Linked DNA regions of Homo sapiens. Each later gene encodes a partner of the first gene's protein in a complex. Each region holds a gene or a part of one and is shown in the gene's direction. Other genes may lie near its edges.

The links.
Region 2: the proteins of RAB1B (region 1) and TBC1D20 are in contact, whole or in part, in a crystal structure (PDB 4HLQ), measured with the Homo sapiens proteins. Residues at the interface, in NP_112243.1 of Homo sapiens: Ser17, Gly18, Ser36, Tyr37, Ile38, Ser39, Thr40, Ile41, Gly42, Val43, Asp44, Phe45, Gln60, Trp62, Ala65, Gly66, Gln67, Arg69, Phe70, Thr72, Ile73, Tyr77, Glu94; in NP_653229.1 of Homo sapiens: Gln97, Gln98, Leu101, Asp102, Arg104, Arg105, Leu107, Arg108, His141, Tyr142, Tyr143, Gln144, Gly145, His147, Asp148, Phe177, Met178, Asp179, Pro180, Thr181, Met182, Lys186, Val212, Ile215, Leu218, Ser219, Thr223, His227, Met272, Ala273.

The regions. Positions count from the first base shown.
Region 1 is NC_000011.10:66,262,734-66,271,638, forward strand, and holds the start of RAB1B (ras-related protein Rab-1B), read left to right. Parts: upstream 1-5,905; 5' UTR 5,906-5,946; coding exon 5,947-5,960; intron 5,961-8,905. Other genes in the region: KLC2 (kinesin light chain 2), read left to right, coding at 81-303, 927-1,014, 1,118-1,219, 1,313-1,486, 1,612-1,711, 2,290-2,339, 2,435-2,502, 2,922-3,030 and 4 more. UniProt on the Homo sapiens protein: The small GTPases Rab are key regulators of intracellular membrane trafficking, from the formation of transport vesicles to their fusion with membranes.
Region 2 is NC_000020.11:451,699-462,156, reverse strand, and holds part of TBC1D20 (TBC1 domain family member 20), read left to right. Parts: intron 1-10,458. UniProt on the Homo sapiens protein: GTPase-activating protein (GAP) specific for Rab1 and Rab2 small GTPase families for which it can accelerate the intrinsic GTP hydrolysis rate by more than five orders of magnitude. Also shows GAP activity for RAB18 GTPase.

The DNA.
Region 1 (8,905 bases):
GCTCAAAGGCACAGCTGGCATGTGCCATCCCAGTCCAGTGGGCAGATGGTACATCTGACCTCCTGCCCTTGGCCCTGCAGCCCCTAGCCCAGGAGGAGGGGATGTGTCTGGTCAGCATGGGGGCTACGAGATCCCGGCCCGGCTCCGCACCCTGCACAACCTGGTGATCCAATACGCCTCACAGGGCCGCTACGAGGTAGCTGTGCCACTCTGCAAGCAGGCACTCGAAGACCTGGAGAAGACGTCAGGCCACGACCACCCTGACGTTGCCACCATGCTGAACATCCTGGCACTGGTCTATCGGTGAGGACTCTCTGGGGGTGCCCAAATTCTTCTGGAAGGCTCCAGCCCTGGATCACTAACCCTTGGTGCCTGCTGTGGGCCAGGACTCGTGGCCCACCTGCGTGGAGCTGGGCTACAGATGCAAGTAAAACTGTCTAGTGTAAGAGAGAGGCTTGGCCAGAACTGGGGAGGGACTGCACATGAGGACTCCAGGGGTCCTGGGGAGTCCACACAGCTTCTCCAGGCACCAAGGCTGGAGGAGGGGCTTTGCCAGAAAGTGAGTTTGCCCAAACACAAGAGGGCTAGAAAAGGTTCCCATGGCAAAAAGCCAGCATGAGCAAAGGCACTGGGACCTGGAGAGCAGGACACGCTAAAGGGGCAGCAGGAGAGCCATGTGGCGCCCAGGAATGCTAGGCACCAGGCAGTCGGTGGGACCCCAGCACTGCGCACCCCAGCCAATTGTGAGAAAACTGCCTACAGCCCTTGGAGCTTGGAGAGCAGGAGCTGAGCAGGTCTCCCCACACTCTGGGTCTCACTCTGTCATACACACTCAGTGAGTACAGGAGTGACCACAGGGATTGCAGACCATTGGGGAGGGCCTTGAGCTGGAGGACAGCCCTGACCATGCTCCTACCTGCTCCCAGGGATCAGAACAAGTACAAGGAGGCTGCCCACCTGCTCAATGATGCTCTGGCCATCCGGGAGAAAACACTGGGCAAGGACCACCCAGCCGTGAGTGAGGGTTGGGTGGGAGGTGGGGGCTGTGCCCCATCCCCTGCAGGTCCCAGAGTCCTGCAGGGCCTGAGTCAAGAAGCTTCCGTTCTCCCACCTCCAGGTGGCTGCGACACTAAACAACCTGGCAGTCCTGTATGGCAAGAGGGGCAAGTACAAGGAGGCTGAGCCATTGTGCAAGCGGGCACTGGAGATCCGGGAGAAGGTGGGAACAGGCAGGGCTGGGCAGGCTGGGGGTCTGGGAGGCAGGGGCCCGGGCAGCCCTGAGCCCAACCCCTGGCTCCCTCTCCCATCCCAGGTCCTGGGCAAGTTTCACCCAGATGTGGCCAAGCAGCTCAGCAACCTGGCCCTGCTGTGCCAGAACCAGGGCAAAGCTGAGGAGGTGGAATATTACTATCGGCGGGCACTGGAGATCTATGCTACACGCCTCGGGCCCGATGACCCCAATGTGGCCAAGACCAAGAACAACCTGGTACCTTGGGGCTGAGAGGAGCTGGAGGATGGGAAGGAGGGAGGCAGGGATGAGGTTGGGGAAGAAGGAGAGAAAAAGGCTTGGCTGCATGCATCCCGCTCACTCTCTGGGTCTCCCGCTTCCAGGCTTCCTGCTACCTGAAGCAGGGCAAGTACCAGGATGCGGAGACCTTGTACAAGGAGATCCTCACCCGCGCTCATGAGAAAGAGTTTGGCTCTGTCAATGGTGAGTGCGTGGTCACCAGGTGCCTCTAGCCCATCCATCCCAGGCCCACTCTGCCATCAGCACCCAGGACAAATCCCTCAGCAGGGCAGGCCCTCAGGCTTTGGCCTGGCTGGTCACCAGCCTCACCCTCAGATGGTGCCCAGCCACCTGTGCTCACGTTTGCACACATGAGCACACACCCAACTCACGCAGCCCCCTTGGCCTGCTAGGGCCTCACACGCCTTTGCATCCCCCTTCTCCACTGGCGATTCTTGCTCACCTTGAGGGCCTGCCCCAGTGTCTCCCACTCTGGGAAACCACCTCTGGCCCCGGATGGTCAGTCATCTGCTCCTGAGTCCCTCGGAGCCTGGCCCATCATTCAGGCCTAGCACATGTCTTGGGCTGTGGCCTGAGGTGCAAGGGTCTGTTCTGCTCATCTCTGTCCAGAAGAGGGTCAGCAGTGTTTTGGGTCTTACTCTTGTTCATGCATTCAACGAAGCCCAACCGTGGTCTCCCCTCCCCTGACCCCAGTCCTGTGTCCAGCCCAACCAGGTGAGACCTATATGGTAGGCTGGTGACAGTCCCCTTTCTCTCCCCAGGGGACAACAAGCCCATCTGGATGCACGCAGAGGAGCGGGAGGAAAGCAAGGTAGCTCTGTGGGGCAGGCTGGGCGGTTGTCAGGGGAGGCTGGGATGTGCAGAGGGGGGCCTGCTCTCACTTCTTGTGACCATTCTTTCCTCCAGGATAAGCGCCGGGACAGCGCCCCCTATGGGGAATACGGCAGCTGGTACAAGGCCTGTAAAGTAGACAGGTGAGTGGGGCGGGGCTGGGCTGGGGAGCAGGGCACGGCAGGGCGGGCTCCACATTCCATACTCTCACCCCCAACACACCCCTCCTCTGCTGCTCATCTGGCAAGGCCCAACTCACAGGTCACCTGTCCCAAGAAGGCTCTGTCTCCCAATTCTCAGCCTAATTCTCTGGCTCTGGGTCTCCCAGCTTTTGGTCCTGGTGACAACATCCCATGAGGGCCCTGGGGCCAGGTCCCCAGCCCTGGGGTGATTTCCCCAGGACAGAAGAGGCTGGGTGGGCCCAGCACAGGGCTTGACATGGGAAGGAATGGATTCTGGCTACCCCGGAGGTCCATGCTTCCTCAGGGCCCACTGTGGGCTGGGTGCCAGGATGGGCCCTGGGTCTGGGGGAACATGGAGTTTGAGACTGTCCCATCCACAGCCCCACAGTCAACACCACCCTGCGCAGCTTGGGGGCCCTATACCGGCGCCAGGGCAAGCTGGAAGCCGCGCACACACTAGAGGACTGTGCCAGCCGTAACCGCAAGCAGGTGGGGCTCCATGCAGGAGGGGGTGGGCAGACACCTGTGTGGCCCTGGGTGTGGTCCATTCACTGCCTGATGCCCCTGCCCCTCCCTCAGGGTTTGGACCCCGCAAGCCAGACCAAGGTGGTAGAACTGCTGAAAGATGGCAGTGGCAGGCGGGGAGACCGCCGCAGCAGCCGAGACATGGCTGGGGGTGCCGGGCCTCGGTCTGAGTCTGACCTCGAGGACGTGGGACCTACAGCTGAGTGGAATGGGGTGAGTCCGGGGCCTGGGCCGGGTCGGGCTGGGAGCCTAGGTGGCCAGCGGGGCCTAGAGGCAAGCCTGTCCACCTGCAGGATGGCAGTGGCTCCTTGAGGCGCAGCGGTTCCTTTGGGAAACTCCGGGATGCCCTGAGGCGCAGCAGTGAGATGCTGGTAAAGAAGCTGCAGGGGGGCACCCCCCAGGAGCCCCCTAACCCCAGGTGAGCCCCCCACCAAGGTGAGCCTCAAGAACCACCCAGCAACCCCGGATGAGCTCCTGACCCAGAGTGTGCCCCACTGACCCCAGGCAACCTCCCCATCCCTCTCAGGCTCCACCACCCACCAGTCTGTTCCCTCCCCAGCCCCACCCTTCTCCCTGCCCCCATCTCCCGTGAGTTCCTCCTTGGGCAAATCCCAGGCTGTCCTTTTCCCTCAGGATGAAGCGGGCCAGTTCCCTCAACTTCCTCAACAAGAGCGTGGAAGAGCCGACCCAGGTAGGGGCAGGCGGGTGTCTGGGCACTGGGCAGCTGCGGCCGGGGCTGCATGCGTGCTGCCAAGCTTCCCTCCAGCATGCCTCTTCATCCAGCAACAGTTCCTGGCTCTGTCTCAGGCCTACTTTGGGCTGGACAACGGGGAGACACGAGGGGAACCCAGCCTCTCCTGGGGGTGGACGTGTAAACGGCCAGTGCTAACACCGTCACTGTGGAGATGGACGGGAGTGTCAGGGCACCAGGGTGTGGCCTTGGGTCAGAACTGCCATTGCCTCTGCCCAGCTCAGGGATTCCGGCTGCCTCTGCCAGGTCAGACCCCTTCAGGCCAGGGAGGCACAGACTGGCAGCAGCACAGGGCTGAGCCACCTGCCCCCTCTGCCCACAGCCTGGAGGCACAGGTCTCTCTGACAGCCGCACTCTCAGCTCCAGCTCCATGGACCTCTCCCGACGAAGCTCCCTGGTGGGCTAATGCTGAAGGGGCAGCCAGTCACCAGAGCGCCCACCTGGCACACCCCCCTCACCCCAGCCCTGCGCATGGGCCTGCTGCTTGTCCCGCCTGTCTCTCCCACAGCCCCTGTCTTTTCTGTTCAATCTCAGGGTAACCTTCTCCCTTGTCATCTCAGCCTGAGCCCTGGAGGCTGGGCCTGCCCACTCCAGCTCCATCCCTTATTTATTCCTTCCAGCAGGGCCCTCTTCCCTAGGTTCGGGCCAGCAGGAGGTGCCGGCTGGAGTCTCCACCATAGACTCAGTGGCCTGGCCTCCCCAGACCCCAGAGCCAAGAACACTAAGCACTCGCCGGCCCTTCGGCACCCTCGCCCTCCCTCCCGACTCAACCCGGCCGTTGCTTCTGTATATAGAGAAATAAGTTATTGGCCGCGCGCCTCCCTTCAGTCCACGGTACTACCCGGGCCTCCCCTCGTCCCTCTTCTAGTGGTACCGCCCAGGCCTTAATCACCCCCATTCCGTGCGGTGGTATCTCCCAGGCTCTACATTCTCGGGAGCGGCGCCTCCCAAGGGGGTCCTGGGACCTTCTCGCGCTCCTCCTGGCCTCTGAGGGATGCGTCCTACCCGCGCCATCGCCCCGTGGCCCAGGACGGGGACCTCCCCTTAGTCCGTCCTCCCACCGCCGGGCCCTGCCCCGCATCCCGGCCTTATGCACTGCCCCTCCCACCCGGCCCCGCCCAGGCACGGCCGACCCCGCCCCGGGCACCGCCCACCGAGCCATCCTGCCTCGCCTCCCCCCACGCCTGCAGCTTCTCGCGAGGGGCGGCGACGGTCCCCTGGTGGCAGGAGGGGCTCCCCCTGTTGCGGGTGAGGCGGCTGCTCTCATATTTTCAGATGTTGCTGTAGAAATAAAGACGGTTTAAATCTGAGCTGGGCTTGTTTTGAGACGGAGGTCGGGGGCCCCCAGCGTCTCTAGACTGGGGTGGAGCCGGGAAGGGTCGTGCGTGAGTGGGGGACAGTGTGTCTCGCTCAACCGCTGTCCGCGCAGCTGGGCCCAGATATTGTGCCCCACCCCGGAATTGCGTGAGGGGCCCACAAGTCAGGCTTTCCCTAAAACACTCACTTGTGGGGTTCTGGAGACCGCGGGCTCTTATGAGCTCTGCTCCTCACAAAGTTTTTGACCTTGAGTGAGTTTCCCGAGACTCAGTTTTTTCATCTATGAAATGCGGGTGATGACGCGCGGCTGCGAGTTAGGACTGCCCAGTACACGAAGAACCCTGGACAAATGTACTTTTATTAGTCTTACTAGAACCCACATTCTCATTTAATGTTCACAACGTGGGTATTGGGAGGGCAAGGATGACTACCTCCGTCAGACAGATGTGAAACGTGCCAAGCCCAGCCCTAAATTGAGCTTTCTAAACACCGAGTCGCGGTCAGGCTTTCCAGCACTGTCCTCAAGCCTGAGTGCGTCCGGAGTGCAAACTACAAGCCCCAGAAGGCAATGCGCCAGCAGTGATGGGAGTGGGCGCGGAGGCGCGGGCTCCCCGACTACGCCTGCGCAGCGGGGCTGAGTTGGAGAACGTCTTAGACTACAAGTTCCGGGAATCAGCGCGGCGAGGCCTGAGAAGAAGACGTTTGCGCCTGCGCGTCGCGGGCGGGGCCTCTGGGGCGGAGCGGCCACCATCTTGGAACGGGAGGCGGAGCAGAGTCGACTGGGAGCGACCGAGCGGGCCGCCGCCGCCGCCATGAACCCCGAATAGTGAGTGAGCCCCGCCCGCGCCGTCCAGCGCAGCCTCGATCCCGAATACAGGGCTGTACGCTTACCGGGGTTGTCTGGCCCGGGTCAGGACTGTGCGGCGCCCCCACATCCGGGTCCCTCTTCCGCTGACCCCCCCCCACATCCGGGTTCTGCCCCTCCCCCCAGGGGCCCCAGGACCCCGGCTCAAAACCCCGAGCCCTCGCACCCGGGGCCCAGACGTGGCGACCCCCAGGGGCAGCTCTTGGAGCTCGAGACATCGGTCCTACCAGGCCTTATCGGTCAGATGACCCCGCAGTCCCGGTCACTTCAGGCCTCAGTTTCCCCACCTGCTGCTTGACAACTGTCCCGGAGTTTTGGAGCCCGTCTTGATAGTTTCTGGTCTCGGGTTCAGGCTTGGGCCCTTTAGGTCGGGCAGTGAATCCCTCTACCCTTCTCTTTCTCCTGAAGCCCGGCTCCTGGGGCCGGCCCAGAAGCTAGCCAACTACGCGGGAGGCCCCGAAGCGCCGCTTGGGTCGCGTCTCCCGCAGGTCCTCTCTTCCGGGGCTGCCTCCTACCCTTTGCCTGGGTCGCGCTGTCCTGTCGCTCCCGCCGGTCCGTCCTTTCCCGCCCTCTCCTCGCTTTTGCTCAGGCCCCCAACGCCACCGTCACACCCCTTCCCTTGGCTGTCACACTGCCTGTGAAGTTTAGATGAATATGGAATTTGCTCTCCCCCTTCCTGTGGGATTCTCTGGTCCTCAAACTCTCCTCACTCTTGGTCACTCCCCCTGCGGGTAGGTGGCCCACATCTCATGCCCAGGACTAATAGTTTTCCCCAAGTATCAGTTATCTTCTTCCTTTTCTGCCACTTCCTTTTTCTACTCCACATCCAGGTCTCAGATTTCCTTGGGGAAGGGTGAAGCTCTGAGCTGGATTGGGAGGGGAACAGAGAAGGGAACCAGCAGGCTCTCGAAGGGACTTTGGAGTCTGAGAAACCTGGTTTGAGTCTTAAAGCGATAAACTGTGTAAGTTAGGGCAAGTCACTTCCCTTCTCTGGCCTCTGGTTTCCTCATTAGTTGACAATGACAAAACTGACTTCATTGAACTGTTGTGAAGATTAAATGAGATGATGCATTTAAAGTACTTCACACAGGGTCCGTCCACAGGTTGGAACTCAAGTATATTAAATGTGATTACCTTTTGCCTTTTTTTTTTTTTATTTTGAGACAGGGTCTCTCTCTGTCACCCAGGCTGGAGTGCAGTGGCGTGACGATGGCTCACTGCAGTCTCCAACTCTTGGGCTGAAGCAGTCCTCCTGCCTTGTCCTCCTGAGTAGCTGGGAATACAGAGGCACACCACCACACCTGGCACATTTTTTAATTTTTTGTAAAGACAGGGTCTCGATATGTTTCCCAGCCTGATCTCAAACTCCTGGGCTTAAATGATTCTCGTGCCTCGGGCTTCCAAAGTGTTGGGATTACAGGTGTCAGTCACTGCACCCAGCCTTAAGTGCAATTTTCACTGCAACTTGACCACCTCTTCCTGGTGACTTCATAACAGGTTTTTGTTGTTGTTGTTGTTGTTGTTGTTGTTGTTGTTGTTGTTGTTGTCTCCAAAGAGATGGGGTTAGCCGGGTGCGGTGGCTCAGGCCTGTAATCCCAGGACTTTGGGAGGCCGAGGTGGGTGGATCACGAGGTCAGGAGATCGAGACCATCCTGGCCAACATGGTGAAATCCCGTCTCTACTAAAAATACAAAAATTAGCTAGTCATGGTGGCGCATGCCTGTAATCCCAGCCACTCTGGAGGGTGAGACAGGAGAATCACTTGAACCAGGGAGTCGGACGTTGCAGTGAGCCGAGATCGTGCCACTGCACTCCAGCCTGGTGAGAGAGCGAGACTCTGTCTCGAAAAAACAAAAGAAAAGAGAGACGGGGTTGTGCTGCATCACCCAGGCTGGTCATACACTCCTAGGCTCCAAGGATCCTCCTCCTGTTTCAGCCTCCCCAGTAGCTGGAACCACAGGCACACGCCACAGCACCCAGCCATCAGTCTCTCTACGTGGGTTTTCAACTTAATAGGTTCTAGGCTGGGCCCTGGCTTCTACTTCTGGGGCCTTCTCTGCCAAGCTAGGCACACGCAGGGCATGTACTGGGGATTCCCTAAATAGCTCCTACTGGACCAAACCATGAAGTTTCAGAAATCAGGTTAGGATACCCAGCTCTGTTGCCTTGGCAGGTCACGTGTCTTGATTTCTTTCTCCATAAAGTGAGAATTTAGACTCAGCAAGCTGAGAGCCCTTTGGGCTAGCTGTTTGTGGAGGGAGGCATCAGCCCTCCCTGACCGGGACTGTTGGGAAGATCTGGTGAGCACCATAGTATTCTAAACCAAGGGATGGCCAGGCGCAGTGGCTCACCCCTGTAATCCCAGCACTTTCAGAGGCCAAGGCAGGTGAATCAATTGAACCCGGGAGTTTGAGACCAGCCTGGGCAACATAGTGAGACCCCATCTCTACAAAAAATGAAAAGATTAGCCAGGGGCCGGGTGTGGTGGCTCACACCTGTAATCCCAGCACTTTGGGAGGCCAAGGCAGGTGGATCACCTGAGGTCAGGAGTTCGAGACCAGCCTGGCCAACATGGTGAAACCCTGTCTCTACTAAAAATACAAAACTTAGACAAGCATGGTGGCAGGTGCCTGTAATCCCAGCTACTCGGGAGGCCGAGGCAGGAGAATTGCTTGAACCCGGCAGACAGAGGTTGCAGTGAGCCAAGATCGCGCCATTGCACTCCAGCCTGGGCAACAAGAGCAAAACTCAGTCTCAAAAAAAAAAAAAAAAAAAAAAAAAATTAGCTAGAAGTGGTGGTGGTGGTGGACACCTGAAGTCCCAGCTACGCAGGAAGCTGAGGTGGGAAGATCACTTTGAGCCCGCAAGGTAGAGGCTGCAATGAGCCGTGATCACTTCAGTGCACT
Region 2 (10,458 bases), on another chromosome or scaffold:
AACTGGGGGGGCTCGGGCGGGTGCCGAGCTGACCCGAGGGAGCCTGGCGGCAGAGTCGCGTCCCCAGGCAGAAGAGCGGGCGGCGGCTTCGCGCCCCGGCTTTCTTCCATCTGGAGAGGACTGGGACTCCTCGAGCGCGGAGGCCAGGCCCACCCCGTCCCAGGCGTCCGCCACGTCCGCAGGCTCCCGGAGCCGCCTCCCCGAGGGGTATCAGCTCTCCCGAACTGCATTCACCGTCGCCGGCTTGATTGACGCGCTGCCCGCGTACCGCCGATGTAATTACCACACAGTTCTTCCTTTAAGGTGCACAGTTCAGTGATTCTTAGAAAATTCACAAAGTTGTGCAGCCATCGCCGCTGTCTGATTCCAAAACGAAACCCTTACCCATTAATAGGCACTCCGCGTTCCCCGGTATTCACGACGCCTGGCAACCACGAATCGACTTTCTGTCTGTCTTCTGCCACCTATTTTAATGTTATTCAATTGTGTAAAAGCGGCCGGGCACCATGGCTCGCGCCTGTAATCCCAGCGCTTTGGGAGGCCATGGTTGGAGGATCGATTGAGGCCAGGATTTCGAGATCAGGCTGGGAAACACAGCGAGGCCTCATCTCTACAAAAAGTTTTTAAAAGTTAGTCGGGTGTGGAGGCTCGAGCCTGTGATCCCAACGACTCTGGAGGCTGAGGCAGGAGGATCGCTTGAGCCCAGGACTTAGAGGCTACTCTATGATTGCGCCACTGCACTCCGGCCTGGGTGACAGATGGAGACCCTATCTCAATAATAATAATAAGTAAATAATTGTATAAAAAGCGCTTCTATTTTTATACTCTTTTAGTTTGGACAATTTCTGTGAAATCATGTTTTTGTTGCACATGATGTTCTCAAATGTTTTTCATTCAATAAATACATGACAGTTAAAATTATGAATGTACACCGTGAACCAAGTTAAATAATCTTTTTTCCTTGAGGAAGACTAAGGTGACTTTCCCTATTTCCAGTCCTCTGATGGATGGTGCCCGTAACAGAGCCAAACACGTTATTAATACAACCCACATATTTTGAGGAAGCTCCTGGTATCTATATTTTATTTTATATTTTATTTGGGCTCATTTTCTGTTTTTCCCTTTTTCTTATGTTCTGATACTGAATGGAAGTGGAGCTCTGAACCCTTTGGCACCGTAACCCTTTAATTACTGGTGTTTGTGTGATGTCTGTCCTCATGGCATAACAGTCAATGCCCTAGGCAGCATGGGTCTTGTGACCTGTTGGCAGTGCAGCTGTGTATCTGTTGCAAGACTTTACCCCCTCTAGTTTCCTTGATTTTGCTTCTCTGGATGAATGGGACAAATTTAAAGATGAGGTTTTTTGTTTTTGTTATTGTTTTGTTTTTTAATCATATCAGAGTATTGTTGGCAAAGTTACTAATGCTAGAATCCCTCTTTTGTAGCGTTTATAGTCAGATTGGTTTACTTACTAGACTGTTTTTTTCCATTGTAGTGAAACATTCTTTCTTGGTACCTGCTTTTTCCAGGTAGTTAACAGAATCTTTGCTAATTTGGATACTGTTTTGTAGAAACTACTAATGAAGACCTCCAGAAACAGAGGCTAGTTTGTTTTATTTTGTGTTTAATAGAACTCTTACCCAGACTGAAATAAGGTTTTCCTCTCCTGCTGTGGTCTTCTGGTACAGACGTGGAGTTAAAGCATTTTTTTTTTTTTTTTTTGAGAGATGGGATCTTGCCCTGTCACCCGGGTTGGAGTGCAGTGTCACAGTCAAAGCTCACTGTCATCTCCCAACTCCTGGACTTAAGTGCTCCTCCCACCTCAGCCTCCTGAGTAGCTGGGACTACAGGCATAAATTTTCAAGTTAATTTCCAATGTCAATATCAGTAGTTGTGGGTGGGTGTAGGGGTATGTCTGTCTCCCTCCCTCCACACAAAACGGCCCCCCCCTTCCATTGTTTTAAGACTAGCATTTCTTAATTTGAGCTTAATTTCAGTTTAAAGACTGTAAAGCCTTTATGATAATGCAGGCTTAAACCAAATAATCAGTATGGAATTTTGTACGCTCACACGAGATTCCATTATATAAATTAGTTGATCCAAGTTAGTATTTGTTTTGGTGATATGAAAAAATATATGAAAAAACTTTTAGAGGAGGCATGGATAGTGGTCATCTTTAGTTGTTATCGTCCCTTCCCAGTGTATTAAGTGCCCTAATCCAGGTGATTTTGGACATGCCTATTACTCTGAGGGGGCAGAAATCTTTACCTGGATTCTGTAGCCAGAGTTGGGAGAAGTTTAAGCCAATAGTGGGTTGTGTCATCTTTATCTGAACCATTAAGAACCACAGTTCAGATGAAGTGTCCCATTGTTAAAATTAGCATTTTAGGGAGTTGAGTCTGATCTCCCTCCCTGACTACAAAACCCTGTTGCAGTTGTTGCTATACCTATTGCTGTGGTGCCCCTCAAATAAAGTCTGCTTTGCCCTCTTTATAAATAAATAAATAAATAAATAAAAATAAGCGTTCTAATGAAGAGTAGGCCAAAGTCATACCTATCTTCCTTTGTTGAATGAATTACTTTTCAGGCATCAGGGATTTATTTATAGCAGTCTTATATTTTGCAGCCAGCTGTAGGACGGTCATTCGTTCCATCATGGTTATGATAGCCAAGACCTCTACTATAAAGGAATTTGGAAGGTATCAGCTTTGGAATAATAGTGCACTATCTTGTAAGTGGGGCAATAAAGAAATTGGAGAAGAAAGGATTGAGGGAGATTAGAATGACATACATTCTACCTCTAGATGAAATGTGGGCTTTTATTCCAAGCCAGATACAGCGTTCTCAAGTCCAGAAATGTGTGTCCTGCTCTAAATCTATAAAGTTTATCTCGAAATACAATAGATAATAGGCATTTATTTTAATCTTTTCCTGAACATCCCAAGAATAGCTCTATGATGTTTCTCTTTCGGAAATAAACAGGATGTCTGTGAATTTGTCTTTCAGTGGAGACGCTGCTAACTCCCTCCCTGTGTCGTCTAGCAGTTGATCTCACTCTGTAATTCATACATCTTTAGCTCACTTGAATTTTCTGTTTCCTCTTCCCTTTTTATGTCACAGTGAGAGCCTATACATTTAGTTGGAATAAAGTATTTGTCAGAGTGGCACACGTGGGAGTGCTTTCTCCATCTGCCACTGACATTTAATCACTAGGCTGTGGGGTTGAGGAGGGTGGTGTTGGGGCCTGAAAAAAACAGCAGCCGAAATCCACGTTGGGACAGCATCCTCCTCTGGGAAACACCGGTAGTGTTAGAAACAGGCCAAAGAGTCTGCAGATCTGTTTAGAGAGTTCTGCAGTGAGCATCACCTTAACAGTATGGGAAAAATAATGTCATTTACTGCAAGCCAGTTTTTTCCAGAGGAACAATAACTAAACTAAATCACTTACTATATTCTGCACGTATTTGTTGCGTTCCCACAGAGTGCCAAAAATTTTGAAATAGTAAGTAAATTTTGAAATGCAGGATTAAAAGTAGAATTGGAGGCCAGGTATGGTGGCTCAACGCCTGTAATCCCAGCACTTTGGGAGGTCGAGGTGGGTGGATCACTAGAGCCCAGGAGTTTGAGATCAGCCTGGGCAACACTTTTTTTCTCTACAAAATATATATACGCAAAAATTAGCTGGGCCAGTGGAGCTTGTCTGTGGTCCCAGCTACCTGGGAGGCTAAGGCAGGAGGATCACTTGAGCCCAGAAGGTTGAGGCTGCAGTGAGCCATGATCGTGCCACTATTCTCCAGCCTGGGTGACAGAGTAAGACCCTGTCTCTAAAAAAAAAAAAAAAATTGGAACAGAGTCTTAAGAGAAATGAGTTATGGGAGGTATGATTTGAGGATTTGAGTTCAGAATTAAGTAACATTCTGGCAAATGGTTTGCCAAAACCTCATGGAAATTCAGTTGACTGCATAGTGGTTTTTTTCCCCAAGATACAAGATTTCCTTTCTCCCAGATTGCCGAATAGCTTATTTAGAAAGAGAGATGGGGTGGATGTATGTCTAAACAAACTGAAGAAAAATTATCATACTCTTAGCAAATAGGTTAACAAGACTTCTGAATATCAGCTTCCCTCAAGCAGTATTCAGTATTGCCACTCAAGTGCTGTCAATTTGTGATGTGTGGAAAGTGCAGGGGTACTCCCAAGTTAAAAAAAAATTAAATATGTTAGGTTTTTTCTCTTTGTTGGAAATTAAATTCTTCTCATGGTTTGCCTCCACCGATGTTATATAAAAAGGCTTCTCTGTTTCCTGCATGTTTTTGACCCCTCTTGAAAACGTACAGCCTGGTCTTCCAAAGGATGGCCCTCAGGCCCAAAGTAAAATCCCTCCCTGTCTTCCTCCTGAGTACAGGATAAACCCAGACTCCTTTGCGGGATGAATCCAGCCCAGCCTCTTTTACTGCGGTGCTACCTGCTTCTGTTCTCTCCCTTTACCTGGCACTTCAGCTTCATAGAACTCTTTGTTTCCTGGACATGGTGTTTCTTTCATGTGACAAGGTCTTTGCACATAACTCTTCTGCCTGGAGTACTTTCCCCTTAACACACTCTTCCCTGTGGCAAAATTTTCTTTAAGAACGTACCAGAGCCCAGTGTGGTGGCTCACATCTGCGATCCTAGCACTTTGGGAGGTTGAGGCAAGAGGATTGCTTGAGCCCAGGAGTTCAAGATCAGTCTGGGCAACATAATGAGACCCCACCTCTACAAAAAATTTTTTTAAAATTAGGCATGGTGGCATAGAAGGCTGAGGTGGAAGGATCGCTTGAGCCCTAGAGGTTGAGGCTGCAGTGAGCTATGATTGTGCCACTGCACTCCAGCCAAGGCAACAGAGTGAGACCCTGTCTAAATAAATAAATAAAAATTAAAAAGAAGGGCCAGATGCGGTGGCTCATGCCTGTAATCCTAGCACTTTGGGAGGCCAAGGTGGGCGGATCACCTGAGGTGGGGAGTTCGAGACCAGCCTGACCAACATGGAAAAACCCTGTCTCTACTAAAAATACAAAATTAGCCAGGCATGGTGGTGCATGCCTGTAATCCCAGCTACTCGGGAGGCTGAGGCAGGAGAATTGCTTGAACCTGGGAGGTGGAGGTTGCGGTGAGCTGAGATCGTGCCGTTGCACTCCATCCTGGGCAACAAGAGTGAAACTCTGTCTCAAAAAAAAAAAAAAAAAAAATTAAAAGAAGGATCCAGAATATATTCTTGGTGAAGCCTTTCCTGACTGCTTTAGAAGTAGTCATTCTTGGCCAGGTGTGGTGGCTCACTCCTGTAATCCCAGCACTTTGGGAGGCCGAGGCAGGCAGATCACCTGAGATCAGGATTTCAAGACCAGCCTGGCCAACATGGCAAAACCCCGTCTCCACTAAAAATACAAAAAATTAGCCAGGCGTGGTGGTGAATGCCTGTAATCCCAGCTACTCGGGAGGCTGAGGCAGGAGAACTGCTCAAACCCAGGAGGTGGAGGTTGCAGTGAGCTGAGATCGCAACACTGCGCTCCAGCCTGGGCAACAAAGAGCGTAACTCCGTCTCAAAAAAAAAGAAGAAGAAAAAAAGTCATTCTTTCCTCTGGATTTTCATAATCCCTCAGATTCTATTATATATAATAATTGTTTGTGTCCCTACTGTGAGCCCTTCAAGGGCTGGGAGGGAGTAATTCATCTTTTTATCCCCAGTACAGTGCTTAGTACAAGTAGACACCCATTAAGTGACAGACTGATGAATGACTGGACAAATGGGCAGGCGGATGAATGGATGAATGGATGAATGGATGAAAGGACACACCTGAGTCAAGAGCTTGACACATCTCATGAACAATTGACTAGGTGTTATGCTGACAGAAGAAATTGGAGATTTTTTTTTGTTTTTGAGACAGAGTCTTACTCTATCACCCAGGCTGGAGTGCAGTGGCACAATCATGCCTCACTACAACCCGCCTCTGCCTCCTAAGCAGCTGGAATTACAGGTGCACGCCGTCACGCCCACCTATTTTTTGTAGAGACAAGGTTTTGCCATGTTGTGCAGGCTGGTTGCTCTCCAAATCCTGGGGTCAAGCAATCTGCCCACGTCGGCTTCCTAAAGTGCTGGGATTATAAGCATGAGCCACGTCTGGACTAAAAACCATGCCCGGCAGTGGTTTTTATTTTATTATATTTTTATTTTTATTTTGTTTATTTTTTTGAGACGGAGTTTTGCTCTCGTTGCCCAGGCTGGAGTGCAGTGGCGTGATCTCAGCTCACTGTAACCTCCGCCTCTTGGGTTCAAGTGATTCTCCTGCCTCAGCCTCCCAAGTAACTAGGATTACAGGCACCTGCCACCACGCCTGGCTAATTTTGTATTTTTAGTGGAGACGGGGTTTCGCCATGTTGGTCAGGCTGGTCTCGAACGCCTGACCTCAGGTGATCCGCTCGCCTCGACTTCCCAAAGTGCTGGGATTACAGGCATGAGCCACCACGCCTGGCCTATTTTATTTTATTTTTTATTTATTTATTTTATGAGACAGAGTGTCACTCTGTTGCCCAGTCTGGAGTACAGTGGCATGATCTCGGCACACTGTAACCTCCGCCTCCCGGGTTCAAGCGATTCTCCTGCCTCATCCTCCTGAGTAGATGGGACTACAAGCGTGCACCACCACACCCGGCTAATTTTTATATTTTTAGTAGAGACAGGGTTTCACCATGTTGGTCAGGCTGGTCTCGATCTCCTGACTTCAGGTAATCTGCCCACCTTGGCCTCCCAAAGTACTGGGATTATAGGTGTGCCCAGAAGGGGTTTTATTTTTAATGATTTCTAGGTAGGTAACCATTTAATTTGGCTTCCAAACTGGGACATATTTGAGAATACAGGGAGCAGAAAGGGTTTGCTGTGAACAATTGTGCCAGGACTCTAGGTATAAACCAGGAAGATCTCAGACAGATGAGGACAAATGGTCACCCTACTAGGTTACCAGGAAACAGCAGTCAAGCCAGGAGGACAGGTTTACCGAGGTGAAAAGTTACTCCTATTATCTTTCTGTCGCACTTCCAATTGCACATGGCTCCAAACCAGCTAGTGCCTCTGTTTATGTGGGTTTTACGTTTCAGGTCTCATAGGTAGCTCACCTGTGACTTATTAGTACCAACTTTAATTTATGTTAATAATGGGCCAGACCTGATGGCTCATGCCTATAATCCCAGCACTTTGGGAGCCTGAGGCAGGCAGATCACTTCAGGTCAGGAGTTCGAGACCAGCCTGGCATGGTGAAACCCTGTCTCTACTAAAAATACAAAAAATTAGCTAGGTGTGGTGGCAGCATGCGCCTGTAATCCTGGCTACCTGGGAGGCTGAGGCCCGAGAATGGTTTGAACCCAAGAGACAGAGGTTCCAGTGAGCCAAGATTGCTTCACTGCACTCCAGCCTGGGAGACAAAGCAAGACTCTGTCTCAAAAAATAAAAATAAAATAATAATAATAATAATAATAATGTACAGCTTTGTCATAGAAACAGTTTGTAGACTCACAATGGTCTCAGACTAGAACATTGCTGGGGAAGATGCTTGGTGTCCCTTCTAAAACCTAATGTACCTTCTGTTAGTTATTTCTAAAATCTGCCCTACCTTCTGGTGATATCTTCCACTTCAAATGAACTCTGGTGCCTTGCACCTAATATATACTACATAAATATTTTTTAATTAGTCTATTTACTGTCAAATGGAAGGGCCGTATCTCCTGGCCTTTCTTCTGTACCCTTCATCCCAGCCCCTGAATGTCCTCCATTTCCTTTGTGTGTATACACATTTAGTTTTATTGTAACAAGGCAACTCGTACACTTTTTTTTTTCCTTTTTTCTTGTATAAGCAGGTGAATCCATGTTCTTTCTGCCTTTTTTTTTTTTTTTTGAGACAGAACTTGTCACCCAGGCTAGAGTGCAGTGGTGTGATCTCAGCTCACTGCAAGCTCCGCCTCCCAGGTTCACCTCATTCTCCTGCCTCAGCCTCTCGAGTAGCTGGGACTACAGGCGCCCGCCACCACGCCTGGCTAATTTTTTTGTATTTTTTTAGTAAAGACAGGGTTTCACCGTGTTAGCCAAGATGGTCTCGATCTCCTGACCTCATGATCTGCCCACCTCGGCCTCCCAAACTGCTGGAATTGCAGGCGTGAGCCACCGCACCTGGCCTAATTATTGTATTTTTAATAGAGATGGAGTTTCACCATGTTGGCCAGGCTCGTCTCAATCTCCTGACCTCAGTGATCCATCCACCTCGGCCTCCCAAAGTGCTGGGATAGGCCAGGTGTGGTGGCTCACGCCTGTAATCTCAGTACTTTGGGAGGCTGAGACTGGCGGGTCACGAGGTCAGGAGTTTGAGACTAGCCTGACCAACATGGTGAAACCCTGTCTCTACTAAAAATACAAAAAAAAAAATTAGCCAGGCATGGTGGCACGTGCCCGTAATCCCAGCTACTCAGGAGACTGAGGCAGGAGAATCACTTGAACCTGGGAGGTGGAGGTTGCAGTAAGCCGAGATTGCGCCTCTGCACTCCAGTCTGGGCAATAGGGCGAGACTCCGTCTCAAAAAAAAAAAAAAAAAAAAAAATGCTGGATTACAGGCACGAGCCACCGTCCGTGGTTGCTGTCGTTGTTGTTGTTGTTTTTGAGACGGAGTTTCGCTCTTGTCGCCCAGGCTAGAGTGCAGTGGCATATAGCATGATCTCGGCTCACTGCAACCTCTGCCTCCCAGGTTCAAGCAATTCTCCTGCCTCAGCCTCCCGAGTAGCTGGGATTACAGGCATGCGCCGCCACGCCCGGCTAATTTTTTGTATTTTTAGTAGAGACGGGGTTTCTCCATGTTGGTCAGGCTGGTCTCGAACTCCTGACCTCAGATGATCTGCCCACTTCGGCCTCCCAAAGTGCGAGGATTACAGGCGTGAGCCACTGCGCCCAGCCTGTTTTTTTTTTTTTTTTTTTTTTTTTTTTTTTTTTTGAAACGGAGTTTCGCTCTTGTTGCCCAGGCTGGAGTGCAATGGCGCGATCTGCAATCTCAGCTTACCTCAATCTCCGCCCCCTGGGTTCAAGCGATTCTGCTTCAGCCTCCTGAGTAGCTGGCATTACCGGCCTGTGCCACCACGCCCGGCTAATTTTGTATTTTTAGTAGAGATGGGGTTTCTCCGTGTTGGTCAGGCTGGTCTCAAACTCGCAATCTCAGGTGGTCTGCCCGCCTCGGCCTCCCAAAATGCTGGGATCACAGGCATGAACCACCGTGCCCAGCCTTGTTTTTGTTTTTAGAGACAGGTCACCAGGACACCTTCCTCCTTTTCCTCAGACTAGAACATTGCTGGGGAAGATGCTTGGTGTCCCTTCTAAAACCTAATGTACCTTCTGTTAGTTATTTCTAAAATCTGCCCTACCTTCTGGTGATATCTTCCACTTCACATGAACTCTGGTGCCTTGCACCTAATATATACTACATAGTTTAAATAAAATTTAGAATTCTGCTGGAGTGGAAAAGTCCAGTGCCTTGATAATAGGGTATTGCTCTGTCACCTAGGCTGAAGTGCAGTGGTGCTATCATAGCTCACCACAGCCTTATACTCCTGGGCTCAAGTGATCCTCTCGCCCCAGCCTCCTGAGTAGCTGGGACCACCATGCCTGGCTAACTTTTCGTACTTTTTGTAGAGACAGGGTCTCACTTTGTTGCCCAGGCTGTTCTCGATTTTGTGGACTCAAGTGATTCTCACACCTTGGCCCTCCACAGCACTGGGATTACAGGTGTGAGCCATTGTACCTGGCTTCCTTAACTTGTACACTTTTTTTTGTTTGTTTGTTTTTGAGATGGAGTCTCGCTATGTCGCGCCCAGGCTGGAGTGCAGTTGTGCGATCTTGGCTCACTCCAGCCTCTGCCACCGGGGTTCAAGCAATTCTCCTCTTTCAGCCTCATGAGTAGCTGGGATTACAGGCGTGCGCCACCAGGCCAGGCTAACTTTTGTATTTTTAGTAGAGACGGGGTTTCCTCATGTTGGTCAGGCTGGTCTCGAACACCTGACCTCGTGATCTGCCTGCCTCAGCCTCCCAAAGTGCTGGGATTACAGGTGTGAACCACTGTGCCCGGCCTTTTGCTTGTACACTTTTAACATTTAAAGCAGAGTATCATCTTTACAGTGAAAGAAAAATAAAATTTAAAAATGAACAGGAACAAAATTACAATACAGAATTCAATTCCAAATAAGATTCTACAGGTTATGCTGATTGTCCTAATCAAGTGGTGAGGCTCAAACCATCATTAAGAGAGAATTTATTGGTTTATTGATTTATTTAAACTATATATATATGGTTGAGGCTGCAGTGAGCCATGACTGTGCCACTACACTCCATCTTGAGTGACTGAACAAGACCCTGGCATCAAGGCATTGGACTTTTCCACTCCAGCAGAATGGGCTTT